Linked DNA regions of Homo sapiens: regions 2, 3 and 4 are each linked to region 1. The links come from fine-mapping of genetic effects on gene expression. A gene starts in region 1. Each other region holds a variant in brackets. All regions are shown on one strand. Distances are between the middles of the regions. Region 1 holds the start of CTSL (cathepsin L). Region 2 overlaps LOC112267903 (a long non-coding RNA gene). Region 3 has its middle 77 kb from the start of CTSL. Region 4 has its middle 68 kb from the start of CTSL.

What was found. PIP is the estimated chance that this variant, and not a neighbour inherited with it, causes the effect.
Region 2: its variant is fine-mapped to the expression of CTSL in whole blood (INTERVAL, PIP above 0.99).
Region 3: its variant is fine-mapped to the expression of CTSL in whole blood (TOPMed, PIP 0.99).
Region 4: its variant is fine-mapped to the expression of CTSL in whole blood (INTERVAL, PIP above 0.99).

The regions. Positions count from the first base shown.
Region 1 is chr9:87,722,989-87,731,093 of GRCh38, forward strand. CTSL (cathepsin L) reads left to right here and starts at 3,131. Exons shown (of 8, transcript NM_001912.5): 1 at 3,131-3,410; 2 at 4,606-4,741; 3 at 5,039-5,161; 4 at 5,262-5,408; 5 at 5,597-5,821; 6 at 6,585-6,747; 7 at 7,393-7,510; 8 at 8,020-8,105. The coding sequence starts at 4,616. RefSeq lists promoters at 1,337-3,204, 1,555-3,176, 1,659-3,204, 1,671-3,103, 1,873-3,204 and 7 more, cis regulatory regions at 1,337-1,658, 1,726-1,728, 2,120-2,122, 2,188-2,190, 2,347-2,534 and 12 more and an enhancer at 2,922-3,443.
Region 2 is chr9:87,836,575-87,844,679 of GRCh38, forward strand. LOC112267903 (a long non-coding RNA gene) reads right to left here. Exons shown (of 6, transcript XR_930087.2): 6 at 7,943-8,105. It also overlaps the pseudogene FBP2P1. Among named protein-coding and RNA genes, the nearest start is that of SPATA31E1, 42 kb to the right of the region's middle. The variant A/ATTTAT (reference allele first, on the strand shown) is at 4,681.
Region 3 is chr9:87,798,829-87,806,933 of GRCh38, forward strand. It overlaps the pseudogene LOC100420576. Among named protein-coding and RNA genes, the nearest start is that of CTSL, 77 kb to the left of the region's middle. RefSeq lists an enhancer at 1,403-1,903. The variant A/G (reference allele first, on the strand shown) is at 4,489.
Region 4 is chr9:87,789,772-87,797,876 of GRCh38, forward strand. No RefSeq gene overlaps it. Among named protein-coding and RNA genes, the nearest start is that of CTSL, 68 kb to the left of the region's middle. RefSeq lists enhancers at 2,518-3,717, 3,643-3,937 and a cis regulatory region at 2,966-3,475. The variant GC/G (reference allele first, on the strand shown) is at 3,534.

The sequences.
Region 1 (8,105 bases):
CCTTGAGTCAATGAGCTCTTTGGTCTGATCTTCTGCTCAAGCAAAGAAAGGGTCCGGCTTCAGTTCTCAGAGGCTGATAAGTACCAAGGTGGCAGAATATGGGAGTATCCTGCAGGTGCTCCCAGCATCTGCCCTGGCTCAGGTGCCAGAGGCTTGCGATTTTCTAGCTCTTGACCTCACACCCTCGATTGTTTGTTTTCCAATTCCTTCCTGAATAACGGGGTGAACATGCCACCCCTCCTGGTGGCGAATGGGGTTCCTCAGAACTGGGAGGCCACAGTCCAGATTCTGAGGCTCTTCACTAAGCAAGTGCTGGAGAGCAAAGCCACTCACTCACAACTCTCTCTCTTTCTCTTTCAAATTTGGGGAAGGGGAGGCCATCTGAGCAGTTTCTCTCACACTCCCCAGTAAGGAACTCATGAAGGACCAAGTGAGCTCTAAGCCCCCGGTAGAAACATTCAGCTGTTCCAATGAACTTCTTGTGATCCTGAAATCTGCAAAGTTAGAACCAAGGCAGACGTAGGTACTCCAGTTACCTAACACCACAGAAATATTGTTTTTATTTCATAAAATAATAAATTTAAATACTGCTATGGTTTCCTTGTTTGCCCCCTCCAAAACTCTTGTTGGAACTTATCTCCAATGTGGCAGCATTAAAATGTGGGGCCTTTAAGAGGTGATTAGGACATATGAGCTCTTCCCTAATGAATACATTAATCTATTCATGGAATAATGGGTTCATAGACCAACAGGTTATCTTGGGAATGGGACTGATGGCTTTTTTTTTTTTTTTTTTTTTTTTTGAGATGGAGTCTCGCTCTGTCACCCAGGTTGGAGTGCAGTGGCGTGATCTCGGCTCGGCTCATTGCAACCTCCACCTCCCAGGTTCAAGTGATTCTCCCGCCTCAGCCTCCCAAGTACCTGGGATTACAGGTGTGCACCACCACGCCTGGCTAATTTTTGTATTTTAGTAGAGACAGGATTTCACCCTGTTGGCCAAGCTGGTCTCAAACTCCTGACCTCAAGTGATCTGACTGCCTCGGCCTCCCAAAGTGCTGGGATTACAGGTGTGGGCCACTGCGCCCAGGCAGGACTGATGGCTTTAAAAGAAGAGGAAGAGACCTGAGCTAGGACACTCAGCCCTCTCGCCCTGTGATGCCCTACACCACCTTGGGCCTCTGCAAAGAATCCCCACAAGCAAGAAGGCCCTCACAAGATACACTTCCTGGACCTCAGACTTCCCAGCCTCGAAAACTGTAAGAAATAAATGTTGTTCTCATAAATTACACAGTTCCAGGTATTCTGTTATTAGCAACAGAAAAGAGACTAGGACAGATATCACAGTTAGATTGTATTCTACACATTGTGACTGGTTCTCCAGAGAAGCAATGCATAAAAAGAGGAATAATCGGCCGGGCACGGTGGCTCACACCTGTAATTCCAGCACTCTGGGAGGCCAAGGCAGGCGAATCACGAGGTCAGGAGTTCAAGACCAGTCTGGTCAATATGGTGAAACCCCATCTCTACTAAAAATACAAAAATTAGCCAGGCGTGGTGGTGCGCGCCTGTAGTCCCAGCTCCTCTGGAGGCTGAGGCAGAGGAATCACTTGAACCCAGGAGGCAGACATTGCAGTGAGCTGCGATTGCGCCACTGCACTCCAGCCTGAACAACAGAGCCAGACTCCGTCTCAAAAAAAAAAAAAGAGGAATAATCTCCAAAATAGTAAACAAATTCCTGCAGACAGGAAATATAATGGTAGATACCTGAGCTAGGAGAGGGGGAATGGGGAACTATTATTCAATGGATACAGTTTCAGTTTAGGAAGATAAACAAGCTCTGGGAATAAACAGTAGTAATGGTTACACAATGTGAAGGTACTTAATGCTACTGAACTCAAAGTTGGTTAAAATGGTACTTGCTATGTGAGGTATATTTTACCACTTAAAAAACTATAGGTGATTGTGCTTCTAAAAGAGTTATCAGTTTAATCTTCAATAGAAATCAATGGACTTTGTTCATTTTTAACAAAGTCAAAATATGCATACGAAAAGGTTATGGGGTAAAGGCAGAGGTAATTATTTTTTTCCCCGAAAGGTATTTTCTACAATGAATGTTTTTATGTAATAAAAAATGAAATGACAAAAGTTTAGAATGTTTGTGGGTTTTGTTCCTTAAATCCTTAATTACATAAATTAATATCTACATTATACAGATTAAGATACATATTTTTCCTCTATCTACAACATTTCTCCATTCTCTGTATCTTAAATCCTGACATTAAATGTCATTAAATTTCTTAAATCTCAAGAGAACGACTTGGTTACCAAGGAAGATATAATCCATAGCCTAGAGAGTGGGCGAATAAAAGCAGCTTCTAATGTTCTCAACTGCTTTTCTCCTGTCAACCAAATGTTTCTGTAAATAACTCATTTCTGTTGGTTTTGGGTAAGACGTGGGAGAAGGAAGAATCCCTGAATGGAGGAGTCTGGAAAGGATGCTTGACAAAACGCCCGCGCTCTCTGGAGACGCAGCCAGTCTCCTCCCTCCTAGGGTCTGGTCTTGACGATAGCATCTCGTGTTTTGGGGATGCCTTTCCTTACCAGATTCTTCTAAAGCCCAGCTGCACCCACCCTTAAGTGGGAGATAAGGCTTCTGCCCGCGGGCTCTGCGTTCGTCCACCCGGCCCCACGTTTGCTGTGGACTAAACAGGAGCCACTGGACTAGAGTACACTTGACTCTCGGCTCTGCGGACCAAAAATTCCAGGACTAAGGAATAGCAAGGTTAGGCTGAAACAGTCCACACAGGGCTTGCGGTAAACGTCTTTTCAGGAGCCACTCGCCCAGTGCAGTAAGTCGTGTACTTAGTTGACTCGAGCGCTCCAGGGAGACGCCCGACCCTACTCTGCGCCGCCCCGGGGCACCAGCTCTGCTTCCTCCAGGTCCACTGAGGCAGGCACGCCCAGCTCTGGGACAGTCAGTAAACAAGCCACGAACCGCGCCAGGGATCAGAGCACCCAGAGTCCCCGCCCAGCTGCCGGCACAGCCAATCGCAGCGCAGCCAGGCGGCGGGGCGGTGCCGGCCGAACCCAGACCCGAGGTTTTAGAAGCAGAGTCAGGCGAAGCTGGGCCAGAACCGCGACCTCCGCAACCTTGAGCGGCATCCGTGGAGTGCGCCTGCGCAGCTACGACCGCAGCAGGAAAGCGCCGCCGGCCAGGCCCAGCTGTGGCCGGACAGGGACTGGAAGAGAGGACGCGGTCGAGTAGGTGTGCACCAGCCCTGGCAACGAGAGCGTCTACCCCGAACTCTGCTGGCCTTGAGGTGGGGAAGCCGGGGAGGGCAGTTGAGGACCCCGCGGAGGCGCGTGACTGGTTGAGCGGGCAGGCCAGCCTCCGAGCCGGGTGGACACAGGTACCGCAGCCAGGCCGCGCCGCGCCGACTCAGGGCCTGGCCCGGCCAGACAGGGAAGCTCAGTCCCCGCACGCCAGACAGCGGTACTCCTGCTGGCGTCACCGCAAACATCCTCTGACCGCTACAGCCAGTGTGTGGCGCAGGCGTCATGTCCCCGGCCCTGCCACGCCTGGAGCCCTGGAAGCTGGCTGCAGGGCGCTGGCTTCCCGCGTGCGGCCATATGACCCCGTCCCTGATTTAGGGGAGCAGTTTGGGGTGTCGGCAGCACAGGCCCAAGTGAATGAAGGAGGGAGCAGTGCGTGCTCTCCTTCCCAGTTTTTCCTGGGAAAGCATTTCAGAAAGGTTTCATTTAAGGAGAGGTTGGGGCGGCGCGGTGGCTCACTCCTGTAATCCCAGCACTTTGGGAGGCTGAGGTGGGCGGATCACCTGAGGTCAGTAGTTCGAGACCAGCCTGGCCAACATGGTGAAACCCCGTCTCTACTGAAAATACAAAATTAGACGGGCGAGGCGGCGCACGCCTGTAGTTCCAGCTATTCAAGAGGCTGAGGAAGAATGGCTTGAACCCGGGAGGCAGAGGTTGCTGTGAGCCGATATCGCGCCGTTGAACTCCAGCCTGGGCCACAGAGCAAGACTCCATCTCAAAAAATAAATAAATAAATAAATAAATAAATAAATAAATAAATAGGAGAGATTGGAAAACTTATCTCAGCTTTTGGTGTTTGTTAGTCAGGAAGATGTGTGAAGGCCTCCTAACTCTTGGGGATCTCTTTGTCCCTACTTGGGAATCCCACCTTATCATTAGTGAGGTTTTGCCTGGGCACGAAACCTGGATTTTTTGCGATTGGTACAAAACCTGGATCAACCGTTTCCCGGTTTCCTAGTTGTTGCCTTAAGCTTCTCACACACAAGGTAGTTTCATACCGTTCTCATAACCTAAATTGTCATCGCATAAACTGTTTCAGCTCCTACAGCTCTGGACAGGCTGCTTTTCATTTTGGTGAGTCCATCCAGTACCTCCACGTGCCCTGTTTTTCTCCAGGCACATCCTTGGCCTCTTCCACAGTCCTTGGGTAAATGCTTGGGAGAATAATTTAAATATTTTTATTCTACCATGGTGGCCCTAATTTTTCAGGGGGCAGTAAGATGGCTTTTTAGGATTGGTCTAATCAGATCCTCATTTTTGTTCCCTTCCTAGGTTTTAAAACATGAATCCTACACTCATCCTTGCTGCCTTTTGCCTGGGAATTGCCTCAGCTACTCTAACATTTGATCACAGTTTAGAGGCACAGTGGACCAAGTGGAAGGCGATGCACAACAGATTATACGGCATGGTTAGTGAAACTTCCCCAGAAAGAATAGTCCTGGCTGTTGAGAAGTTTTAGTCAGAGAGTAGCTTCTAGAGGCCAGCTTTTACCAATAGCCTAATGTAATAACCTAATGGCGTGGATTATGAGCACAATGTGGACATTCATCCTTGTTGTGTCTCAGTTTGGAGAACAGCATCCCCAGAGGTGTCAAGCCTTCCCTTGCCATGGTTTCTCTTCCATCTCTGTCTGCAGATTCACTTGGTGAGGATGAGTTGGGTTTTAGGTAGAAGTAAAGAGCATCAGTTACATGTTTGCCTCTAGAATGAAGAAGGATGGAGGAGAGCAGTGTGGGAGAAGAACATGAAGATGATTGAACTGCACAATCAGGAATACAGGGAAGGGAAACACAGCTTCACAATGGCCATGAACGCCTTTGGAGACATGGTAAGTGTGCTGTGGACTGCCGAGCTCTGTGCTTCCTCTCTTCGGTTCTTTACTAAGGTAATCTCTTGCTTTTCAACATTTTATTTCCTTTTCCTTGAAGACCAGTGAAGAATTCAGGCAGGTGATGAATGGCTTTCAAAACCGTAAGCCCAGGAAGGGGAAAGTGTTCCAGGAACCTCTGTTTTATGAGGCCCCCAGATCTGTGGATTGGAGAGAGAAAGGCTACGTGACTCCTGTGAAGAATCAGGTGAGACAGTGTCAGGTTCAGACCTCCCATCTTCCCAGGAAAGCCAAGAAGTGATTGACATCTTTGTTTTGGTAGACTTTAAAGTGATGTACAGTTCACTTTTTAACAGTATTCAGATGTGTGAGCTGTTGTCAAAGTCTTATTATTTTTTTTTTGTGGATGACAGCTTTTTTTAATTCCCTTTTCAGGGTCAGTGTGGTTCTTGTTGGGCTTTTAGTGCTACTGGTGCTCTTGAAGGACAGATGTTCCGGAAAACTGGGAGGCTTATCTCACTGAGTGAGCAGAATCTGGTAGACTGCTCTGGGCCTCAAGGCAATGAAGGCTGCAATGGTGGCCTAATGGATTATGCTTTCCAGTATGTTCAGGATAATGGAGGCCTGGACTCTGAGGAATCCTATCCATATGAGGCAACAGTAAGTGGAGCTCCTTGTCATCATTCCAGCTCAGCTTTTGGAAGGTGGACACTTTAAGAGATAACAGATACCTTTTTCGGAATTCATATATTAGGGCTGGGTGGGGTGGCTCACGCCTGTAATCCCAGCCCTTTAGGAGGCTGAGCCAGGCAGATGGCTTAAGCTCAGGAGTTTGAGACCAGCCTGGGCAACAAGGTGAAACCTTGACTCTATCAAAAATACAACGAAAATTAGCCGGCTGTGGTGGTGTGCGTCTGTGGTCCCAGCTATGCTGAGGTAGGGCGATTGCTTGAGTGTGGGAGGTGGTTGTGCAAATGCACTCTCCAGTCTGAGTGACAGAATGAGACCCTGTCTCCAAAAAAAAAAAAAAGTTCACATATTAGATGGCAGAATATATATCTGCAAATTGTCAGTACTGTCATTATAAATTATTAGCCTTTGCACAATCCTGTGATTAGATGGGTAACATATAGCTGTTCTTGCTTCTATGTAACGTGAAGAATATACAAGCCATTCTAAATATACACATTTCTCTATTGTGAAAAATGTCTTATGGAAGTAAACCCAGAGGTCTCATTGAAGAGACTGGAGTCAATTTTCAGTTTCAGATTAACTAATAGCATTTCACTTCCTGGGATGATTTATAACAGTGGTGACTTGGAAATACTAAGCTGCACACTGCTGAGTGTTGTGGTTCTAACTCATGTTCTCCAGGAGGAGGACAGCAGTAATCAAGTCTTTTTTTTCCCTTTACCTTTGAAAGGAAGAATCCTGTAAGTACAATCCCAAGTATTCTGTTGCTAATGACACCGGCTTTGTGGACATCCCTAAGCAGGAGAAGGCCCTGATGAAGGCAGTTGCAACTGTGGGGCCCATTTCTGTTGCTATTGATGCAGGTCATGAGTCCTTCCTGTTCTATAAAGAAGGTAAGCATATTTTTCTTTGTAGAAATTGATGCAGAAAAAGAGTATCATGACATACGAGCATGATAGACTCTGGTTTGCAAGTAAAGTTCAGTGTAGATATTTAGGTGCTTAGCATCATAGTTGTTCATTCTGTACATGCAATATTTATACCTGATGTTTCCATTTGACATTATGTTGCGTATATCTCCATGAATATAAGTACTTCATAACTTTTTATAAATAGCTATATTTACTGTGTAGTTTAATATACTTAAAATATTCTGCAATTGTTGGATTTTTATAATTTTTCCAAAGATTTTTACTTCTATTATTAAATCCGAAAAGAGCCTTTTGATTCAAGGATTTTAGTGTTCTGTGCTATTTTTTTAGATTGATATCCTAGAGTAGAATTACAAGCTTACAAAGAGGGGTCTTTTTTTCCTCTAGGAAAGCTTTTTTTTAATGAAGGATTTATGCTGATTTCTATTTCTGCTAGTTGTAAATGAGAGCTTAAATCCCTGGCCTTCTTATTGTTGTTAAGTACTATCTGGAATGTGTGTCACTTCACTGAATTCAGAGATGCCTCATTCCCTGTGGGTGACAGGATGGGTTACTGTCATGTGTCCTCTGGAGCTTCTCACCCCAGCCCTCATTTTACCATCCCAGGCATTTATTTTGAGCCAGACTGTAGCAGTGAAGACATGGATCATGGTGTGCTGGTGGTTGGCTACGGATTTGAAAGCACAGAATCAGATAACAATAAATATTGGCTGGTGAAGAACAGGTATAAATTGCCAGAAATACTTACATTTGAAATTCAAAAGAGAATACTTATTTGCAAACAGTGTTTGGATACAGTTCCACATGCCCTTAGGCATACTTCTGAAATCCCCAGAAGTCTAAGTTGAACATATAATATTAATGTTTGATTATAAAAGTAAGAAACTGTCACAAATATCTTGGGAGTATGAATATAGTATTTGTTCCATTGTATAAAGGTGTATCTAAATCTGAACAGTTTTTAAATTCTGAGGCATATCTGGCTGCAAAGACATCCTATTGTTTTCCTGTCTCTGATCTGTAGTTCTGTGAAAGGTCACAGTTTGGAGGCTGGGATGGAAATTATGTCCAGGTTATGTCAAGAATTTTTTAAGGATAAACAGGAACATTGCCTGTCCTGATTCTTTCTGTTAAGTCTATGGCCTCTGGCACAGTGTTTAAGTTGGGTGTTCCTGTTAATAACCCTTTGGGCTTTATTCTTTCTCTGAAATGGAAAACCTGCTCTTTTTTCAGCTGGGGTGAAGAATGGGGCATGGGTGGCTACGTAAAGATGGCCAAAGACCGGAGAAACCATTGTGGAATTGCCTCAGCAGCCAGCT
Region 2 (8,105 bases), 110 kb after region 1:
AAGTGAACACAAGGGGTTTTGAAGTCGTCATTGGTCAACATTATCTGAGTTTTCACAAGACCTCAGTGTATTTGGCAAAGCATTTCACAAGTGATAAACAAGGCATCCAGCATTTAAAAGCAAAACTCACAGAGCATTCTATGGGATGATGCTGCTCTAAAGCATTCATGCTTCTGTCTGGAAATTCGCAGCATTACGATTCTTAAATCATGGAGTTCTCATAAACCAAAGAGATCGAGTGCATTTTTGAAAAATGAACTCCTTAAGGACAGGGCTTGAGTTGATGCAACTGACTCTGCAGGACACCCCTACCCCGGGTTCCCTCACTGGGACAAAGGCCCTTCATGGTTTCTGATGATGGCGTTGGCTCCCAAAACTAGGTTTTCAGACTCTCTGGCCCCAAAAACAAGTATTAGGAATGACCAGGAAATTATCCCAGGGGACTAGCATTAAAGCACAGAGGCCCATCAAGTCCCCAAGCCCAGAGGCTGCCATATTCTGTACCTACCAAGTCAAGCATGAAGAGGTCCACCCCTTGCCCTGTGGAGAGAGCCACCAGGGTTGTGCTACTGTACAGTGTATAAACTATGGTCACAATGTTGCAGCCAGGCTGCAGGGCATCCCTTTCAGAAGGCTTGTCCTCTGAGGTCTGTGGAAGAAAGGAGAGAAACACGGTGTGTTATTGTTTCAGGAGAGAACCCTTTGTCAGAGGCATGGGATTCAGATCTCCTTGAACCACTGAAGAAAGTGCAGTTCTTAGAATTTTAAGCTGCCACAAATCTATCCAGAGAAAATGAGTTGCCACGTTACCGACAATTCTAGCTGAGCTATGGCAAAGGCCATTTTTGGATTTCTTCCTATTTTCCAAACGCATGTGTCTGCAGCCTGCCAAGAAAAGCACTCCCAGATGCTAAAATCGTAAGCTGCACTCCTGAGCCATGATAGTCACAACTCAGATCACTGAGCGGAGGGTGCAGCGTCTCACTCTGCACACTCAACAGCTATCTGAGGCACATAGCACTGTCACCTTCATGGCTCAGTGGGAGAACTCTGAGAAAAAAACAACCTGAGATGAACAATCTACTGCAGTTGGAACAGCTGCACAACTCACTCAACAGCAGGAAGCCCTGACTCTGCTTTCTCTCTGACTCTGTGGATGCTCCTCATTTGCTTCTCTTCCCCACAGCTCCTCTTCCTCTGGTTCTTTAAATCTTGGTCCTCTTTCTAGTTTTTTTCTAGCCTTTGGTGCATCCAGCCAGTGCAAATGGTTCTTCCTCACCCCCTTATCCAAAATTAGAACTCTTAGCTGCTACGTTTATATTGAGTCACGCCTCCCACCACACAAACACACAGACACACACACACACACACACACACACACACACACACACACTCTTGATGGGGTAGGAGAGAGAGTCCTGACCTAGAATGGCCCAATCAGCCTCTCTCCTCCAGATATCTAGAATTAGAGGACATTCTGGTGATGTAGAGTTAGAAGCCTTGTAAATCTGAATGGTCTCACCCCTATGCTCTGACCTCATGATTTGGTATTCCAGGTGCTTGATGCCATGAGCATCCAGGGCTACTTCTTTGAAGCTCCCAACACATTTTCATTCTTGGGTTTAGTGTCTGACTTCCAAGCTACACTGTAAGCAACCTGAAGGGAGGTACCCACTCCGTCTTGTTCATGTCTGTTTTCCCACCATGTAACACAATCTGGGCCATGATCATTGCATTTAATTAATACAGACAAACACACAGATACATATATATGCAAGTTTATACACACACATAAATATATACATGCATACATGTAGTGCTTTTCAGCATAAGAATCCTACAAACGTTTTTTAGATTTATATAATACTATTTCATTTTTTAAGTGATTAAAGTACATATTTTAAATTTAATTACTATTATGAATTAGTTTATTGCTAATATATAGAAATCCAGTTGGTTTTGTATGTTGATCTTGTGTCCTGTGACTTTGCTGAACTCACTCATTCTAGGGAGTGTTTTGGTTTTTTGTTTGTAAATTCCTTGGGATTTCCTATACAGATCATCATGACATCTGCAAAGAACGACAATGTTATTACCTGCTTTCCAATCTTTTTCCCTTCCATTATTTTTTTTGCCTTAGTGTGCTGACTATGACTTCCAGGGTTACATATGTTGAGTAACAGTAGTGAAGGAGGACATCCTTGCTTTGCTCCTGATCTTAGAGGATAAGCATTCACTCTTTCACCATTAAATACTAATGCTAGCTATAAATTTTTGTAGATGTACTTGATAGGGTTGAGGTAAGCTCCTCCTCTATTTCTTGTTTTCTAAGATTTTCTTTTTTTCAGAGACAGGGTCTTACTCTGTTGCTCTGCCTGGAGTGCAGGGGTGTGATCATGGCTCGCTGCAGCCTCCAACTCCTAGGCTCAAGCGATCCTCCCATCTCAGCCTCCCAAGTAGCTGGGACCACAGACATGCACCACCACCCACCTCTCCAGCTAATTTTTTTTTTGGGGGGGGTGGGGATGGAGTCTTGCTCTGTTGCCCAGGCTGGAGTGAAGTCACGCAATGTCGGCTTACTGCAACCTCTGCCTCCTGGGTTCAAGTGATTCTCCTGCCTCAGCCTCCCAAGTAGCTGGGACGATAGGCGTGTGCCACCATGCCCAGCTAATTTTTTGTATTTTTAGTACAGACGGGGTTTCACTGTGTTAGCCAGGATGGTCTCAATCTTCTGATCTCGTGATCCACCCGCCTTGGTCTCCCAAAGTGCCGGGATTAAGATGTGAGCCACTGCACCCGGCTAATTTTTTTTTTTTTTTTAGATAGGGTCTTTTTACTTTGCACAGGCTGGTCCCAAACTTCTGGCCTCAAGTGATCCTCCCACTTCAGCGAGTTTCTTTTTTAAGTCATGAATGAGTTTTGAATTTGTTCAAGTGGTTTTTCTCCATCAATTGATATAATTATATGATTTTTCTTCTTTAGCCTGTTGATATGGTGGATTACACTGACTGATTTTGAATACCGGACCAGCCTTCTATTACCAGAATAAATCCCACTCAGTCATGGTGTATAATTTGTCTTATGTGTTGTTGAATTCTACTTCTCAATACTTTGTTAAGGGTTTTTTCATTTATTGATGAGGGATCTTGGTCTTTGGTATTCTTTTTTTTTTTTTTTTTTTTGAGATGGAGTCTCGCTCTGTTGTCGGGCTGGTGTGCAGTGGTGCGGTCTCGACTCACTGCAACCTCCGCCTCCTGGGTTCAAGCGATTCTCCTGCCTCAGCCTCCCAAGTAGCTGGGATTACAGGCACTCACCACCACGCCTGGCTAATTTTTGTATTTTTAGTAGAGATGGGGTTTCACCATACTGGCCAGGCTGGTCTTGAATTCCTGCCCTCGTGATCCACCCACCTCGGCCTCCCAAAGTGCTGGGAATACAGGCGTGAGCCACCGCACCCAGCCGGTCTGTAGTAGTCTTTTGTTTTTGTTTTTTTGGAACTATTGTTACCAAAACACCAGGGGTTTGGTCTAGGCCTTGCTGCTTACCACACAAAAAGCCAATCACTAAGACAATAAGTACTGCAAAGGAAGAAGGCTTTAATTGGGTGCTGCAGCTGAGAAGATGGGGGAGCTCAGTTTCAAATCCATCTCCCTGACAGACTAAAACTAGAGGTTTATATAACAGAGAAGAAATGTGACAATGTGCAAGAATACAGGAACTAGAGAGGGGAAAGGAAGCAATAATGAGGAATGAGGGCTCCAGGCTTCTCATTGTCAGGATGTGGTGATCTGGTGACTTTCAGTTCTCTAATACTCTTTTTGAGAGGTCTGAAGTTCCTTTCCTGAGGAAGGAATTCATATAAAACAAATGTAAGCTTCAAGCTTTAAGAACAGAAAGGTCAGTTTCTATGTTTATCCGAAAGAACAGTCTATGAGATTATTGGGTCAGTTTTACTATCATTGTCTGGTTTTTGTATCAGAGTAATGCTGACTTTATAAAATGAATTGAAAAATGTTCCTTCCTCTTCTCTTTTCTGGAAGAGATTGAATAACCTTTGAACATTTAGTATAATTTTCTAGTGAAACCATCCGGGCCTGGAGATTTCTTTTTTGAATTCTATTTTCTAATAGTTGAGCCCTGAACCTAGTCTTTCAAATTATCTATTTTATATTGGGTGAGTTAGAGTACTGTGCTTTCTGAGAAGTTAGTCCATTTCATCTAAGTTATCAATTTTATGTGTGTAGAGTTGTTTATAATATTCCCTTACTATCCTTTTGATGGCTCCTAACTTTTTGAAAAACAAAACAACCTGAGATTAACAATCTAGGTCATAAATACATGATTCTCTGATTGTTTTCTCAACAGAAATTCCAAATAATTAAATTACTGGGTAAAAAATCTTTTTATACATATTGAAGTTTTCCTCCAGAAAGGTTGCATAAATTTATACTTTTACCGTCAGTGATAAGAGGGTTCTTTTTAATTTATTCTGGCAAACACAAGATAGTATTGTCTTTTCAACTTCATCAGTTTGGTGGAAAAAAGACCTCTTTTTTGTTTTAATTTCTATTTTTATGAGTGAGGTAAACTTTTTAGAGTTTATTGATCATTTTTATTTTGTAGGTTGTATATTTCATGTCTTTTATTTTTCTATCAACATATCCATCTTCTTGTTTATTT[A/ATTTAT]TTTGTTTGTTTGTTTGTTTTGAGATGGAGTTTTGATCTTGTTGCCCAGGCTGGAGTGCAGTGGTGTGATCTTGGTTCACTGCAACTTCTGCCTCCCACGTTTGAGCAGTTGTTCCTGCCTCAGCCTCCTGAGTAGCTGGGATTACAGGCGCCCACCACCGTGCCTGGCTAATTTTTGTAATTTTTTTTTTTTCTTTTTGAGACAGTCTCACTCTGTTGCCCAGGCTGGAGTGCAATGGTGCCATCTCACTCACTGCAACTTCCACCTCCCAGGGTTCAAGCAATTCTCATACCTCAGCCTCCTGAGTAGCTGGGATTACAGGCGCCCACCACCACACCTGGCTAATTTTTGTATTTTTAGTAGAGACGGGGTTTCGCCATGTTGGCCAGGCTGGTCTCAAACTCCTGAACTCAGGTGATCCGCCCACCTTGGCCTCCCAAAGTGCTGGGATTACAGACGTGAGCCACCACACCCAGCCTATATTCATATTTCTATTCACAGTATCTCCTACACAGTGTTTTCCTACTCTATGGGGAGAAATCAGGTAGATGGCAGAAGACACAGGTCAGATCTCGAGAAGAGTTTCTATGGCCTCCAAACAAGCATTTATTGATTATAGACTTAGGGGTGGATATTACGAATGTGGGATGTCCCACAAGGTTATCTCCTGTGCTATCTAATGCACCAAGCAGCTTGTCCATAACTTAGTTTAAATATATCCGTCAGGCTCCATGCCCACTTGCTGTAAAAGCAAGATTACTGAGTTAATCTTAGATTTTAAAATGGAAAACTGGGCCTCACAAAAGCAGTTGGAAAAGTTACCTGGAGATTGTTTCTAAGGCAGTCCCCAACTGTACCAAGCAAAGGACAATATGTACAAAGTCAGAGCTTCATTAACTCTTGATGATTGATTCATTCACTTACTTAATGCAAGACTTCAGGGGAAGAAGAATCGCTGAGTGGAGGAGACTGGAAACAATGCATTATGAAGCGCCCATGGTCTCTGGATACCCACCCAGCCAGTCCCCACCCTCCTAGGGTCTGGTCTTGACCATCTCATCATGTGTTTTGAGGGTGCGTTTTCCTACCAGTTGTATTTTGTTTGCTGTTTTTTGTTTTGTTTTGTTTTTGAGACAGGGTCTCCTCTCGCCCAGGCTGGAGTGCAGTGGTGCGATCTCGGCTCACTATAGCCTCGATCTTCCGGGTTCAAGGGATGCTCGTGCCTCAGCCTCCCGACTAGCTGGGACCACAGGCGCAGGCCACCGCACTCGGCTAATTTTTGTATTTTTAGTAGAGACGGGGTTTCGCCAGGGTGCCCACGCTGGTCTCGAACTACTGGGCTCAAGTGATCTGCCTGCCTCAGCCTCCCAAAGTGCTAGGATTACAGGCATGAGCCACCAGCAACATGCCCAGATTCTTCTATACCCTTAATTGGGAGATAAGGCTTCTGCCTGCGGGCTGTGAGTTCTTCCAACCGGCCCCTTCTTTGCTGTGGACTAAACAGGAACCACTGGGCTAGAGTCCTCTGGCTCTCGGCCCTGCAGGAGATTTTAATAAACAATTCTAGGCCTAAAGGAAAAGCAGGGTTAGGCTGAAAATGCACACAGGGCTCCTGTAAACTTCTTTTCATGAACCACCGGCCCAGGGCATTAAATAAGGTACTTAGTTGATCCGAACCCTCCAGGGAGACCTCCGACCCTTCTCTTCGTAGCCCCCAGCTCCCCTCCCCCCGGTTCCACTGAGGCAAGTGGACTGAGCCGCTCCACAGGCTAGGAGTCAGCCCGCCGGAAGGTCCCGCCCAGCCTTAAGAAGTCAATTAGCTGCTTTCGGGCGGCCTTAGGCGACGGGAGACTCCTGGACTCGGCACCTGCCCACTGTGCCTGTCCACCTGTGGCTACTGCAGCTGAGACCCCAGTGGGCTGAGATTGGACAGGGGCCACCAGGGACCCAGCAAGTCCTTCAGCTCGGTGAGTGAGGGATTTTCAGGAGTGCCAGGCCGCAGTATTCCCAGGGCTGGTGGGGTGGGACAGGGAGGCTCGACCCGGGCAAATCAGGCAGAGGCGCCGCTTGCTCCCTGCACCACCACCCACCTCCTGGGGCCACAGTGAGCATGAGCGGGGGGTGGAAGCAAGAGGCAGGGGACCTGGCCTGGGTCCCCAGCCCAAAGCCTGGGAAGCTGCCTACCCCTGTGTGGGCGCGGACACTGGGGACTCTGGCTTCTGGCGGTTCGGCCACCTGATTGGGTTTATGCTCTATGAGGGGAGTTGGAGTGTTGGCAGGACTGGCCCCTGCAGGACTGCAGGACTGCGGGAGCGGCGGTAGATAGGTGCTCTCCTTCCCAGTTTCTCCTGGGAAGACATTCAAGAACTGTTTCCGTTACAAGGGGTGTTTGGAAAACATACTTCACCTTCTGCTATGCATTAGCCAAGAACAAAGTGTGAAGTGACTTCCCAATTATTGGGGATCCCTTTGTCCCTTCTTGAAATTAGATGTCTTCATTAGTGAGGTTTTGCCTGGATGACCTCAGCACAATTGGTACAAAACCTGGGCCAACGGTTTCCTAGTTTCCTGGTTGTTGCCTTTAACTTCTCGCCCATAAGGTACCTTCCTATCCTTTTCATAGCCTAAATTATCATCCCATAAAACTGTTTCAGCTCCTACAGCTCTGGACAGGCTGCTTTTCATTTTGGTGAGTCCATCCAATACTTCCACTTGCCTTGTTTTTCTCCAACCAGATCCTTGGCCTCTTCCACAGTCCTTAGGTAAATGCATGGGAGAATAATTTAAATATTTTTATTCTATCATGGTGGCCCTAGTTTCTCAGGGGGCAGTAAGATGACTTTTTCGGATTAGTCTAATCAGATCCTCATTTCTTTTCCCTTCCCAGATTTTTGAAACATGAACCCTTCACTCTTCCTGGCTGCCTATTGCCTCAGCTGCTGTAACACGTGACCACAGTTTAGATGAACAATGGACCAAGTGGAAGGCAAAGCACAAGAGATTATATGGCATGGTTGGTGGCATCTGAAACTGTCCAGGGGAACCCCAGAGAGATGGACCTTGCTATTGGGATCATACGGCCAGAAAGTAGCTTCTAGATGCCAGCTCTTACCAATAACCTAATGCAATAACTTAATAGCACCGATTATGAGCACGATATGGGCATACACCCTTGTTGTGTCTCAGCTTGGAGAACATCTCCCAGAGGTGTCAAGCCTTCCCCTGCCATGGTTACTCTTACATCTCTGTCTGAAGATTCACTTGGTTAGCATAGGCTGGGTTTTAATTAGAAATAAAGAGCATCAGTTACATGTTTGTCTTTAGAATGAAGAAGGATGGAGGAGAGCAGTGTGGGAGAACATGAAGATGATTGAGCAGCACAATCAGGAACACAGCCAAGGGAAACACAGCTTCACAACAGCCA
Region 3 (8,105 bases), 76 kb after region 1:
ACAGATAAATCCACAAGTAGGAACATTCTACAAGATAACTGGTTTTGCATTTTTGCTCTATGGCTGGGTTTTTAAACCGCACCCCAGTGTTGAATGTCACACAACTGGAGCAAAGCCTCCTATTTTGGGTCATTTCTTCCAGGAATCACTTGCTGGGGGGTTGAATGTGTTCCTTGAATTATGATTACCCTCTGTGTCTGCGCACACATTCTCTGCCTTAGGTCCCCCAAACATTGTCTCCATGAGAACACCTTACTGCCTTTTCTCAATGGTTTTTGCACCCAGGAGGCCTGTTTGGAGCTGGTAACTCCACACCGCATGGAAAGCAGCCATCCTGAAGGCTGCCAGTAATAGCAGGTTAGTACCAGGTGCCCAGGGGGAGCGAAGAGGGACCCAGTCACCCAGGGCAGCGGGCACTGCACTCCAAAACTATCAGGCACTGGAAACAAAAGCAACACACAAGACAAAATGACAGCTTCTAAGGTGAGCCGAGAACTGCAGTTCAGAGCGTCACTTGAGGCTGTACGTGATTGTCACATGTCTGGAAATATTATCAGTAGTTGGCCCATTTCCACACTGCCTCCCAAGGCTCATACCACCTCCAAGAACTGGAATTTGGGACAGATGTGAGTTCCTGGTGCTCCTCACAGCCTCCTGCCTGGACTACTAGGGGCTCACCTCGCCTGCACTGTGGAGCTGCTGAGCAATGCACCTGGGGTACCCCTGGATGACCAGAGGGTTCAGCTGGTCCTGCACTTCGCACACAAACTGCTGCAGTGACATCAGCTGGTTGGGTCCATTGAGGTTCCACCAGGAAGGCAGCATGGAGATGATTTTCTCACACAGGTGAGTCATGGGAGGGCAGACCTAGAAGAAGCAGGGCAGGACAGGTTAACTCACCTGCAGCTGTGGGTGCCCTGAGCGGAGCTGCGGTGGAGAGGACATCTTTCATTCAGGTGCCTTGCAGGTGATTTGGTGAACAAATAAGCACGTTTATGCTTGAGTACTGGGACAGTTATTATTTTAGTTACCATCAAGTGGAATCAATTTATCAAATATAAGGTTTTATAGAGGCTCTTCAGTTCTACTGGAAATCTATTAAACAGATTTTGAGTCTTCCAAGAATGTTTTTGGAATTGTGGACTCAGTCACTCAATCAACTAATGTTCACCAACTCCTAATGTTTCACTCCCTCACTTCTTCCTCCCTCCCTCCTTTCTTCCCTCGCTGTCTCTCCCTCCTGTGACTGTTTCACTCATGTAATGACCACTTTATGAACAAAAAGAGGAAAAGAGCATGAGTATCATCATCAATGTCAGAGTGGGTTTTGACCAGTAAATTAGCATTCATGGGGACTGTTGTTGAAATATTGTTTCAAATTAGACCAATTCTTGGTAATTAGCTTGAAATGATTTTCTAACCTTTTAAGTTGGTTAAATAAATCAGCCTATGTTACAGATTCATATAATTGACGCACCTCCTGATTAGAAACCACACATGCCATGCCCTGCACTGCGCCGTTAATTCCACACTCCCCTCTCAAATCCTTTTATATCAACTAAATTCCACTCCCTATTCCCAAAACAGGATTCTCAGGGGTGAGTGCAGTTGACGTGGTGGGCTCCACCTGCCTGAGCTCAGGAGTTTAGGGGTTGGGTGGGGGGTATCTGAGAAGCAGCAGATCATGCCACAGCCCAGCTCAAAAATCTCCAGGGACACTCCCTCCTGCCTCAGGAATGCAGCCCCAATCCAGACCTGGTGGGGAAGTGCAGGGGCCCTCACAGACAGACCACTGTTAGTTCCTAGATCACCGCCCCTGGTTTCTGTGACAGATTCCTCCCAGGCCTCGCCGGACTACTCCCTTTGTGTTTCCCGAGAATTCCAAAAGCATGTCTGGATCCAGCGCCTGCTGTCGGGAGTGCAGGGTTTTGGAAGGGGGGCCCATAACAGGAGGTGGCCCCTGCTGGACAGCAGAGGGGCCCAGAGCTGACACTCAGGCTTGGGCAGTAGGAACCTTCTGAGAACGCGTTACCACTTTCCACTGGGATGTCTGCCCTTTTCTTACTAATTTTGGAGAGCTTTTTGAATATTATGGGTAGTAGTAACCCTCTAGCTGTGAAATGCATTGAGAATATTTTTTTCCAGGTCTATTTCACTTTGTAACTTTGTGGAATATATTTGCCAGAAAGTCTTTTTTTAAAAGTGTGTCAAATATGTACATTTTCTTTAAACATATCTAGGGTTTTAAAAGGTTTCTAAACTTCCAAGTCATTTTAAAAACAAGTTTTCCCAAATTTCCATTCAAGAGATTGTTGTATCATTTCACGGTGAAAAGCTCTAATCCATTTATCTTTATGCTCTGTAGTGAGCGGGAGTTCAACGTTGTTTACCTTTAGGCAAATAGCCAGCTGTGTCAAGATCGCTTATCAAACAAACATTTTCCCCATTAAATTGAAATAACATATTTTGCTTTCTATAACATTTCTGTAGATATTATGATTGACTTCTATACTCTCTAGGCTGTTCCTATAACTTATTTAATCATATTGATTATAGAGCCTTTATAATGTTTTATTTATTCTTCTATTAAAGTTATAAGATAGGAAACTCAATCTCCTTAGTCCCATTCAGATGCTAACTGGAACTCTATTAAATTTATATAACTCAGAGAAATTGAAACATCCAGTCCTATCTTGCTATCAGGGATAGCAATCTCCTTCCATTTTTTTCATCTACTATTTTATGTCCTTCAATAATTTTGTTAGTGACGGTTTTTCTACTTCTCTGAATTTTCTAAATATTCCACAATGTCACTTTGGAATTACTTTTGTAATTCGAGGGCAGGATCTGGGGGCCCAGGACAAGCTTCTCCTCTCTCTGCTGCCACAGCCAGTTCTGCTCCGGGGAGCTCAGGGGACACCAACTTTCCAGAGAACAAAATGCACATGGACTCTGATTCTGTCTATTCATTAGAGACAGAAAGTCATAGTTGATGCTGAGATACAGATGTAGGGAATGTTTTCTTTCAATGTTTCAGTATGTTCCTTGCTCTCAAATATTTCTGAAGGGTGAAGCTTTACATCTTCCCAGGACTACTTCATCCAGCAACCATGGCGTGCTCTGTGCAGCACCCCAGCTGGTCTCATGCCACTTGAACAGGAGTCCCCTGCCTGTGGGGTGTGGTCTGGTGCTGATGCACAGGCTCTAAGAGCATCAAGTGACTGTTGACTTGCCTGGCCCAGGGCTAGTGGCATCTTCTCTGGTGGCATCTTCCCATCCACCTCTGGGTCCAGCTGCTGAGCTGTGCCTTCTATCCAGGGCTCCCTCAGACTCAAGGCTGCAGGTGCACACCCCAGGTCAAGTTTTCCCCACACCGGGCAGGAGGAAAAGGTGCTATGGGGCCTGTGTGCACGGCCTCCTGCCTCTTTACAGCCTCAGGCAGATGCTGGTTTAACTGTAGGTGAAGCTCCTTATTTCCAGGTACTGGATAACACTCTGCCTACCCCTCTGGAGCCAATGGACCACCTGGGCATTAAGCAATGGGGGCCTCCATGGGGTTGCACACATCTCTTGTTCTTGCCAGGTCCTCCCAGAGGCTGCATGGCTTTGCTAGAGAGCTCTGAGACTGAATGTTGCCTCTGACATTGACTAGGCATGACCTTACCAGGGCCCACACACTCCAATGCATTTCTGCGCAGGGTACTGTCCTTCTCCCCTGGTTGGGAATGTCATCACAGAGCAGAATTTCACACCAGGGGCAGGACCTGCTTCTGAGGTCTCTCTCCTGTTCCAAGGGACTCTTGACTCTTGGAGTTGGAGTGCAGGTGGAGAACATCATGAAATCAGAGCCTGTGTCCCTCTAAGTGGAGCAGCTGCCGCCTCCCCGCTACCCAGCACCACGGAGGAAGGTGCATCCAGTGTGGAACAGGCTTCCCACAAGAAGCCAAATATCCACATTTTTAGGTGTGATCTCCTGATTTTTAAATGACAGTCAATGTCCCCCCTCCCCTCCTCATACTCAACAGAGCACTGCAGCTTGTAGGGGAGGCCCCCATCTGCTGTGTTCCTCTCGCCTGGGAAGACCCACCTCGAACTTCTGAGCCTTGGGTTACTTTCCTCTGAAATGGGCTCATGAGAGGACCGCACAGATCCTGGCAGTCAAATGACAGGCTCTGTGGACAGCGTCTGGAACCCGGGTGAGCACCAGCTACAGGACTCCCTAGGTCCTTCCCACTGGGCCTGGCTCCTATGGAGGGTCCCACATGTATTCTTGCCCAAGGCTCACTAAGTAATAGAGCCTGGACAGCCCCAGTCCAAGCACCGTCACATCTCCCCTGGTTGCCAAGATCATCTCCTATCAGGTCCCTCTGCTCCACCTCCTGACCCCGAGGCTCCAGTCTGAGCAGCTGGGGGAATTCCTAAACCTAAGGCAGATCTCGCACCAGCCAGCTTAACACACTTGGCCCAAACCCAGTCTCCTCACCCCCC[A/G]GGTAAGGTCTATAAAGCCGTGCCACCTCTCGGGTCACGTCGTCGGGGTCACGTCGTCGGGGTCACATCGCTCGCGCATCGTTCTCTGCCTGCACCTCCAGGCCCATCCTCTGGCCCTAGCCCAGTTACCCTCCTTCTTTGTTGTTTTATGCTTGAGCTCCTCCAACCCTTCACTACCTGGCCCCTTGCACTCCCTATTCCTCTGTCTTCCTCCAGCCCTTCCTCGGGCTGCTTCCTTCTTCTTGCCCTTCAGGTCTTGGTTTCAGTGTCACATCAGAGAGGTCCTCATCAGCCAGGTGAAAGTAGACTCCACCATCCTCTCATCTCACTTCATCCTGTTTCAATTCCCTGCATGGCACCTACCCCAGGAGGCAGCAACCCTTTCTGTAGAGGGCCAGATGGTCTCTGTGGCAACTCAACTCTGCCATGTATGAACACCAGCCGTAGACAAGAGCGTGTGGCCGTGTCTCAATAAAACTTTATTTACAGAAGCAGGTGGTGAGTTGTAGGCTGTTATTTATCACCCATTGATTCAACTTATGCTATCTGGCATTTTTCTGATCTGTTTCCTGGCTGGGTTCTGCCGATTTTGTTCACCGTGGTCTCTGCAGTGCCCAGAACAGCTCTTGGCATGCAGTAGACACTGGGAATATCTTTTCAGTGCATGAGTGAATCAGTGTTATTTGGTAACAGCATTGCTCTTTGAAGCCCTGGTGGATCTCCTAGTTTCTAGTTTCCTTTATTCCAGCACCAACTGTGGCAATTTATTTTCATTTTTCTCATCAGAAAAGAGGACTAAACATCTGCAAGCTAATGAGGAGACCATCCACGGTCTGGGAAGGCCAGATAAGAGCGCTGAGAGGCAATGTGGCCCCGCCCACGTGGCAGGGTGTAGTGAGAGCCCATGGATGGAGCAGCAACTCTTAATTATGCAAATGCAGCTTGCAGGTGGTGAATTTTTCATTCTGGGCAAACTCCCCCTTTTTTTTTTCACTTTTCAAAATATTCCTGGGCACCTTTCTTCACTATCTGATGAAGTAAAGGCACACTACTTTTAATATCAGCTCATGGAAAATCTGATTAGAAGGAGAATCAAACAGAATAAAAATATGCCAACTCCTGAAACTCTTATTTTAAAATCCGATAAGAATGGGACTTGCAGCGACTGTAGTAAAATGGATGCTGATATAAAATCAAGATGCATCCCCCATCACTACCTGTCATAGAAGGAGTCCCTCCTTTCTTTTAGAAGGAGAACTGGGTTTGGCTAAGCAACACCAGCATCCTCAGGCAGATATGGATAGCTGTGTTGATGGCCGATGTGACACCTCGGTTCTTGTCTTCTTGGTTTAAAAGAATTTAAACAAAAGGCACACAGCAAAGGAGATGAAGCATAGAGTGATTTTATTGCAAAGGAGAAAGAATATTTTGAAAGTTAGGTGCAGAAGAGACAGTACACCCTTAGAGAGAGGGAGTTCGGGGCGGCTGCTCCTTAGGGTGAGAGGGTGAGACAGCATTGATCGTTGTTGGAGAAACCCCCTTTATGGGAGTCTTACATGATTATTAATAGGGAGGTGGGAAGAGGTTTTGCTAATAAGCATGTTCTGGGTGGTCTTCTGGGTGCACATGTGTAGTAACTGTACATGCTGGTTCATATGTCCCATGTCTCATTAACATCTTAAATCTCTACCCAGTGGTGGTTTTTTTCTTTTTTCTTTTTTTTTTTTTTTGGAGATGGAGTCTTGCTCTGTCACCCAGGCTGGAGTGCAGTGGCACAATTCTGGCTCACTGCAACCTCTGCCTCTGGGGTTCAAGCAATTCCCCTGTCTCAACTTCCTGAGTAGCTGGGATTACAGGTGCACGCCACCACACCCGGCTAATTTTTTGTCGTTTTAGTAGAGACAGGGTTTCACCATGTTGCTCGAGCTGGTCTTGAACTTCTGAGCTCAGGCAATCCACTCGCCTTGGCCTCCCAAAGTGCCAGGATTTCAGGTGTAAGCCACCGCGCCTGGCCATGTTTTTTACAATTATGAGCAAAGGGTCATTTTGAGGAGAGGTAAAATCAAAATGTGCATGCTGTCTAGAAGGGAAACTCCCCACTGAAGATAGCGTTGCTTGTGTGAGCTCAATTACAATGCAAATGCTAAGACTTACTGTGTTGGCTGTACGGTCACTGGTAACTGTGGTTGCTGCATCCCAAAAACATGGCCATTTCCTTGACTACCTATCCTGCCTCAGCTGCACTGGGCTTTGTTTTATTGGTAGCAGTGAGCACAGAGGAGTAGAAGGTGCAACCTCCTTCTGCAATAAGGTGGTACCTACAGCCAGGGTGGAGGTGTGGGGGCTATTAGAGACCCCTAAAACAATGGTGAACTGGTCAGCTACCTCTGGTGGGCAGGCAGGCATCGATCTGTAGCATTTGCTGATTCTTGTGGTGTAAATGCTCCCACCCTGGCTGATTTCAAGTACCCCGTGTGATGTCACTGAGTTGGGAAGACATGCACGGCTCTCAGGGACATCACTGGAGGCTCCTGCACACCACTGCCCTAGTTCACTTCCTGTGAACTTTCAGAGTAGATCCCACACAGATCAGCCCCTGGCCCATGTTCTTTCTTTCCCCGGGAACTCCAACCTTGGCCTCAGTCACCTTCAATGCTGTCCTGCCCCACCCATTTGGGGAGCTCACTTGGGCCCCTGGAATGCCCTGTCTGCAAGGTCCTATTTCCCATGGGGCAGCCCCCTGCACTGTCTAATAATGAAAACAGCTAGTCCCTCTCCCCTGCCCATCCTCCATTGGTCCAGGGAAACAAGAAGACTTTGGTTTTCTTTCCAGATGCCCAGTCCCATTGATTCTCTAGCAAATGTAGTTTAAAAACACATTCCTAGGCAATGTCAACTGATGAGAGCCGGGAACACAGAAAGTATTTCTTTTGCTCATTTGGCCCATTTGGAAACCAAATAACATGGCCACCTCCTTCAGCTCTTCCGGATACAGACCTCTCCCCACCACTGTGTGAGATCTACTCTGATCCAGCTCCACAGTGGCTCTTGCAGAGTATGGCAGCAACCCAGGGGGCATCAGACAATGTGTGTAGGTATTGTTTTGGTTTTCACAATATGGGGCTATAGGGGATGCTAGCATGTTAGATGCTTGGCAGCCACAGACAAGAAATATCCTGTAAGGACAGGAGTTCCTACTCACCCAAATCCCCAAAGGCATCCAGTGAGAAACACCGAGAAATATCAAGAGAAAGGACATGGAAAGGAAGAAAATGGTCCTAAGATGCTCTGAAGGGTGAATGACCTCTTCTTCCCCTTCCCTCTCCCACATCACGTGCCCCATTGTCTCCTGCTCAAGGTGACCCGAGTCAGAACTGCAGGTCAGCCCCTTCCTGGCTTCCTCCGCAGGCACTGTCTGCTCCTGAACTCCCACCACAATCCTCAGCGATGCATTCTCCAAAGAAGCCGCTGTGACAGCTGTCATTTTCAAAAACCAAATTCCAGTACCGGGTGTGCCCAGGTGCCAAGCAGTTATTTGTGTGGGGATTTATGTTCACCCACAAGGAAGACAGACTGTGATTAGCAATGCTTGGCAAACAATTCATCCCATTATGGCT
Region 4 (8,105 bases), 67 kb after region 1:
CAGGAAATGGGCATAACAATTCTACTTTCCTCACAGGATCGTTGTGAAGATTAAATGAGATATGTAAACATTTGCATGTAGTAGGGCTAACCTATTTTTTTTGAGACGGAGTCTCGCTCTGTCCCCCAGGCTGGAGTGCAGTGGTGCGATCTCTGCTCACTGCAACCTCCGCCTCGCAGGTTCAAGTGATTCTCCTGCCTCAGCCTCCCAAGTAGCTGGGACTACAGGCACCCACCACCACACCCAGCTAATTTTTGTATTTTTAGTAGAGATGGGTTTCACCATGTTGCCCAGGATGGTCTCGATCTCCTGACCTCGTGATCCACCTGCCTTGGCCTCCCAAAGTGCTGGGATTACAGTCGTGAGCCACCGTGCCCAGCCAGTAGGGCTAATCTTATACCCCTTTATTATGGGGTCAAAGATAGAATCTTTCCAGAGGTGTTGGTTATTTAAGAAAATATTTATTCAAGGATTTGATGCACAGGTAATCTCACTTATTTCTTTCTTCCCATGAGCCAGGTTACCAAATTGGTGAAATTAATTATAATGTTATTGTGGTGGGTAAGCATATATGTTAAAAGCGAAGATACAGTTCCTTATATTATTGAATTATGCTCCCAAACTTATCAAATTAGGTATACATGTCTTGAGACTGTTTCAATAGGACCTAAAATATAACCCATTGTATTTTGTGTTTGACCTATAATAATAGGGATATAGGGAATGCAAATTACTACACATATAATGGAAAAATAGTGTGGAGATTCCTCAAAAAATAGAACTACTGAATAATGCAGAGGTCCCAGAACGGGTTCTATCTTCAAAGGAATGAAAACCAGTACATGGAAGAGCTATCTTCACTCCCAGGTTCACTGCAGCCCTCTTCACAATAGCCAGGATACAGAGTCAACTTTAGTGTTCATGAACAGATGAACGGATGAAGAAAAGGTGACGTATATACACCATGGAATACTATTAAGACTTAAAAAAGAAGAAAATCCTGTCATTTGCGTGAAATGGATGGACCTGGAGGAGATTGTGTTAAGTGAAACATGTCAGGCACAGAGAGACAAATAGTGCATGATCGACCTTATATGTGAAATCTAAAAAAGCTGAACTCATAGAAGTAGAGAGTAGGATGGTGTTTGCATGGGACTTGTGAGTGGGTCGTTAAGAAGGTATTGGTCAAAAGATGTGAAATTTAAGATAGACAGGAGGAATTTAAAAAACAGATAAGAGAGGCCACACAGTCATCATTCAGTAAAGAATGTTGAGGTCATTTTGTAAAAAGGTCACACCTCATTGGAGGTATTGATAGGACTCTCTCTGGCAGAAGCAGTCCTCCACAGGAACAATAACATGGTATTTGTAAGGTTTGACCTTCTCACGCCAGTGGTGCTTTGGGAGCTGCAGCACCTGCTCAGGATCCTGGGTGGTGGCTGGAAATGATATCCTAAAGAAATGATTTCCTCAAAGGGAAATGAGCTCCTGTTTTCCAGAGTGAAAGTTCCTCCCTGGACACTGGGATCTGCAGCAGCTTTGAGTGACTAAATGTCTTTCTAGAAGCCTTTGACTCACTGGGTACCGTGGAGTAGGGAGTGCCTGCAGGATGTAGGGCCTCTCCAACATCATCCCAGAATCAGCCTGTGTTTCCTGGGCTTATTCCCAAGTAGGTGAGGGAGGCCAGGTGGGGATGGGTGCAGGTTCTCAGGGCTTCCTTCCAGTGTGAGAATCAGGGCACAACTTCTTGACCTCTCTAAGCTCCAGTTTTCTTATTCTGTGAAGAGGAATGAGAAGAAACTGGTTGGCTTATAAAACCTGCTGATGCTACACTCACAGGGTCTCAGCAAATAGACAAAGATGTAAAGATGTGTGGTGCCTGATGCTCCCTTGAGGTGGATGAAGAGCAGGGAACCACACGGTGCTGATGTCTGCCTATAACTGAGCCATGCTTCCCTCATGGATGCAAATCTCTGCAGGGCTGGGAGGACAAACAACATTCTCTTATGAGTGTTATTTTTAAGGCCCAAAGAGAAGGCTGATTCAGCCTCAAGAGTAAGGTTGGCTACCCTCCTCCATCTGACAGGATACAAGTTGAGGGCAGTTGAAATGATTCTGAATAACAGTGGGGTGAGTCTCCTTCACTATTTGCTTCCCTCCTCTGAAAAATTTCTTCCTAACATGCTCAGTACTCACTTCCTGACGACTGGTACCTACATTTGCCTTGGTCCTAGCTTTTCAGATTGCAGAATCCAGATATGTTCTTTGGAACAGTTCATATCTTCTACAGGTCTGAGGCTTCACTGAGTCCTAGACAATTTCCTTAAAGGAAATTGTGAGAAAAACTATTGAGATGGCTCTTCCTTCCCAAACATAAAGACAGAGAGAGAGAGAGAGAGAGAAAGTTGCTGCTTTGCTCAACAGCATCTGCTTGGTGAAGAGCCTCAAGATCTGACTCGGGCCTCCCAGCTCTTAGGAACCCATTCTCCACTGGCAGGGGTGGCGTGTTTACCCTGTTTTTCATGGAGGAATTGGACCACAAACATTTGGGGATGTTAGGTTGAGAGCTGGAAAACCCCAAGCCTCTGGCTCAAAAACCCAGAGCTTGCTAGGAGCACTTGCAGGATACGCCCGTGTCCTGTCACCTGCCTAAAGAAGCCTTTCGGGCCGGGCACAGTGGCTCACGCCTGTAATCTCAGCACTTTGGAAGGCTGAGGTAGGTGGATCACCTGAGGTCAGGAGTTCGAGACCAGCTTGGCCAACCTGGTGAAACCCCATCTCTACTAAAAATACAAAAATTAGCTGGTACGGTGGTGGGCACCTGTAATACCAGCTGCTCGGGAGGCTGAGGCAGGAGAATTGCTTGAACCCAGGAGGCAGAGGTTGCAGTGAGCCAAGATCACACCATTGCACTCCAGGCTGGGCAACAGAGTGAGACTCTGTCTCAAAAAAAAAAAAAAAGAAAAGAAAAGAAAAGAAAAAAGACCTTTGGGTGCTTGTCAGCTTCTTGGAAGTGAAGCCAGACCATTTCCTTGCTCAAGCCAAAGAGCTCATTGACTCAAGGAGCATCATAGCAACTGGGCTGCATCTAAAAGGGAAGAATCAAGGGCGTGATCCACAACCAAGGCCTGAGGAAGCAGGGCCCATAGTTGACCTGCACAGTATGAGTCATGACCCATGTGCTGGGGCTCTAGCCATGGGCGGTGCCTCTTGCCATTTCCAGCTTCCTCCTGCAGAGGGTGGGTGTTAACGGTCTTCATTGCTCATAACCTTCTCAAAGGCACGAGTTTCGGTTTCTGCCTTCCCTGAATCAAGTCTTCTACATTGCAGTTGCTGTAACAAAAACTATTAGCAACAACACAGCACTACAGAAGCAAGCTCCTTGCTAACAGTGATTGCTGATGACATTGTCTTCTAGAGACCACTCTAGTGGCTCGGCAGCCTTGGTATAGAGCTGATGATAAAAACTTTTCCTGCTTTTGCCAGTCATGAGGAGCATTTCTTTGTCTAGATAAGGGAACTGAAACCCACTG[GC/G]CAGCCAGAATATACTCAAAGCAGTCATTGGGATACGAATCCCACCATCATCTCCCATGTTATCCCTTTTGTTACCTTTAAATATGGTCCCATTTACTCAGGACCAATATTCCCTTATGTGGAGAGCAGGACTAGTGCCCTTGAGTTACTTACGGTGACTCATCTTTGAGTGGGGAATGTGTTAGTATTTTCAGCAAATGTTAAGTGTGATGAAACATTTGCTGAACTGTCTCCCCGTTTCGAAATAAGCTAACAGCACTCAGGGGCTCTATTTACAGCAATTGGGTGGAGTCAGGAGTGGGAACGCATCTTGCACTGTCACCTTGATTGACAATAGCTCTGACCTGTGGAGGATGGTCAAGTCCTGTCTCCTATAACGTGGGGCAGTGATGGGTCAGGGTCATGGCTCCTGCATTTGGGTGAGGCCTTCTCATCACTTTTAGACAAGCAAGTTCAGGGTGACCGCAGGCCTCCCCACTTCCATCAGTATCCTCCCAACTCCCCCTGACCTCTCTCACGAAGCTCCCCACCAATTCAGAGATCCAGTCCTGAGGGGCTAAAAGAAACATTCATTAACCTGTCTAGAGAGTCATGAATAATTCATGAATTACATTGAATTCATCCCTAGTATAACTATCTTCAGAAATTCAGACTTGGTAACCCGGTAGCCCCCTTCCTCAATGTCTTTCCAAGGCCCCAGGTGATCTCTCTGTTCCATACATAATGCTTTACACAGCAAAGTGCTTCTGGGGGTGGGAGCCCGCTGACCTTCCCTGGAATCCTGACTGCAGGTTCTGTTTAGAACATGGGGTCTCATTTTGAGAAGCTCTTGGTATTTATCATTCACAAGAAGTTCACAGGCTCCAGAAAACACAGGACAGCATTCAGGGAAAGAGAAGTGGTAGAGACGGAGACACCTGGTCAGTGTGGCCAGAGCATCCTGGGGGAAATGCACTGAAGGACAGCAGGGCAAATGCACGTGGGTGGCTGGGGAGAGGAGCAGTGCAGATGGCAAAGACACTGTCCAGACAACCTCCCAACTCAAGAGAAGGGACTGAATCTAAGAGGAGAAGAGGAGGGATGAGACAAGATGCTGAGGGTGCCACAAAGTCAGAAATCATTTGAAGTCAATGAAAGTCAGACACCTATAGATGTGACTGTGGTTTGCTGATAGAAGAAACAATGCTGGCCATATGTATTAAATACATGGATATTACGGGAAAGAAAACATCTTTTGAGGCTAGACTTAATTTTCCTTCTATCTGAACAAGGGTTTGCTTATGATTTATACTTTACTTACATTTTTCAGCTTTGTAATAAGTTGAGCTGGTTGATATAGTGTGCAAGATATTTACAAAAACAACAGAAAAAGAATAAAGTCCTTAAAAAGTCTCAACATGAATTGTTTCTGCAGGGCAACTAGGAATTTCCACTCCTGTACCAGAGAGCCACAGATTTGTCTGGACTCCTTAGGGGCCACAAGGACACTGGCTCTGATAATTCAATGGACTACGAAACAAAACAGTGGCTTGCAGTGCCACCATTATGCTTCCAGTCCTTAGGTTTTCAGGGGAGATAGTATTCATTTATTCTACAAATATTTATTTAGGATGTATGTGATGTCAGGCAAGTTATAAGCACCATGGTTGACAGGCAGAGACAGACAATAATCAAATGAACAAATAAAGAGTAATTAAGACTGCTGATTTTGGAATTAAATAGTTCTGAGAATAAATTATGGTTCAGATTCTTCACAGGCATGTAACTTTGAGCAAGTCTCTAAAACTTATGGAGCCAACATTTCCTCACTTGTAAAAGGGGAATTAAACTGCCTACCTCTGTGGGTATTTTGAAGATTAAAGAGATAAGTGTGGTTACCAAAAAAAAACTCCAGAATAGAGCTACTATTATTCTTCTTAAAGGTGTTTTGGAATCTAATAGTGCCCCTATCTCATGGAAACACCACTGTTGGGTCTTGCCTTAAGACATACCACTGAAGATTTTAGGCAGAATTGTCAGAAAACACAGGAAAGTAACAGGGCGTGTGATAAGCTCTTGAGACCTGGGAGGTCTTAGAACAGAGACGGACAGATAGGGACACGAGGCTGTAAACATGACCTGAAGCCATGTCAACAGGCTGCCTCTGCTGAGCTCTCTTCTGTGGTTCGATGTAGGGTTAAGAAGTTCCTGTGCCCTTGGGATTTCCTAGCCAAACCAGCTCCCATCCTCATTGCTTTCTCCCCTGTTGTTTCTGCTTTTTGTGCCCCCAGATATGTATGATGCACTGAAAGAGATCAAAGGATTTTAAAAATCAACTGATTTTTAAAATTCTGACTTAAGACAAGGATTTTAACAACAGACATGCAAATAAAAAAATCAATATTCAGCCATAGGTCAAATAGTCTATTCTTCCCAAATAGACTTCTGTGTCCACAATGGTCCTGAAAGTCAAGCTCTGAAGACGGTAAAACATTCTCCAAACGCAGGAGCCAATTTGAAAACCTCCCCTATAAGCTGAGAGGTCAATGTTATCAAGAAATTAATTGTTCCTGGCCTAGTGCGGTTGGAGGAAGAGAGGAGAATAGTTGTCCCCAAGACTGCGAGAGGGGCAGGAGTTTCTGCAGGAGGCCGAGGGCTGTAGCCTGCTTGCACTCATGCCTTGGTGGCTGGGCTTAGAGCACATAGGATCTGGATTATTTCCACAGCCAGGCTTGGCATGGAGGGTGGGGAGGCAGGTCAGACATCTTGAAGTGACCAAAGGCAGCAAAAGACAGACTGCTCAGAAGACCCCAGGACGCCTCACAACCATGGGGAGGAGGAGTGGCTCCCTGAAGAATAAAAAAGACTAGATTTTTTTGGGTGGCATTTAATCCAAATTTGTTTTAAAAAGATAAAGGAATGTGGTAGTTCTGGGAAGTTGTGGTGGAGTAACTGAGCTCAAGGGCAGCATGGGTGAAACAGAAAGGAGCTAATTAGTTCCTTTCTAATGAAATACCAGGAAATGAAAGGAAATGACAGATGATTGATGAGGCCTGGAGAATTTAAGTTTACAATTTCTCCTTAGGCTTGTGCTGTAATTCCCATGGCCATACTTTAATGTCCAGTTCTATTCAGGCACTAGCAAGGATAAAGGTTAACAAACATAGAAAAGAAAGTGTCAGAGTCTCTTTGATGGGTTAGGGCATTTTCACTCATCGGTCACGTGCACTCAGCCATGGGGTAATGCTTCCTGGCTGGTGACCTTCTTTCCCACACCCCATCCTCCTCCCCCATGAGTTCTCTACATTGCTGTTACAGAGGTAGCTGTTCTTGGCTGATGCCTTACAATTTGCATGGTGGAGTGTTCAATGAACTCAGAGGGATCTGCATAATCTAGGTACAAATCCCATCAAGGCTGAGACAGACAGCATTCCTAGAATAATCAAGACTTAGTGCCCAGGATCACCCATCCAGAGGCTTTGCATAGGGTGGACAGACACAGCCCTGAGGGCCCACAGCTTGAAGAGTTGAGTGCCGGCTAAAATTTGGGCCCTGCAGGATCTCCCTCCAGGCACCACTCTGCAGCCTACAAAGTTTGCAAGGACTGACAGATAATTGGCTGCAGCATGCAAGACCCAGAGCTCACCCCTGCTTTCTCAGAGCTCACCTTCTAGAACACTCTGGGAAGGCAGAAGTCAAGGCTGGCTTGCCACATTCACACGCTAGAACCAGGTACCTGGATGCACCCTTGTTATGCTCACCAGTCTCCCAGGCTATCACCACTGTTCTTGGGAAAGCTCACACTATTGGTGGGCCCAACTTGTTCTTGTACTCTGTTTGTTGTTGTTGTTGTTGTTGTTGCTGTTGTTTTGAGACGGAGTTTCGCTCTTGTTGCCCAGGCTGGAGTGCAATGGCATGGTCTTGGGTCACTGCAACCTCCACCTCCTGGGTTCGAGTGATTCTCCCGCCTCAGCCTCTCGAGTAGCTGGGATTACAGGCACACGCCACCACGCCCAGGTAATTTTGAAATTTTAGTAGAGATGGGGTTTCTCCATGTTGGTCAGGTTGGTCTTGAACTCCCAACTTCAGGTGATCTGCCCTCCCTGGCCTCCCAAAGTGCTGGGATTACAGGCATAAGCCACCGCACCAGCCTCTTGTACTCTCTCCAAGGGGTGGCAAGTTTTTCTTACTCACCTGCCTATTGGGAACCAACTTAATATTTTTATTGTGGTAAAATAGACATAACATAAAGTTGACCATTTTAACCATTTTTGAGAGTACAATTCAGTGGCATGAAGCTCATTCCCATTGCTGTGCCACCATCACCACCTTCCATCTCCAGAACTTTCTCTTCAACCAAAACTGAAACTCTTAACCCATTCAGCACTAACTCCCCACTCTCCTCTCCCTAGCCCCTTAATTGTAACAGGAATGAAGATAATAATAATGTTCATTTCTTGTTGACTTTCTTATTGGTAACCTGTCCTTGATTCAGCCAGAAGTAGCCTTCATCTTGGGAACTGTTAGGATTATTAAAGGATAAATGGAAAGTAAAAGAGTCAAACGTTCAGAGTTTAAATTCCAAAACACAA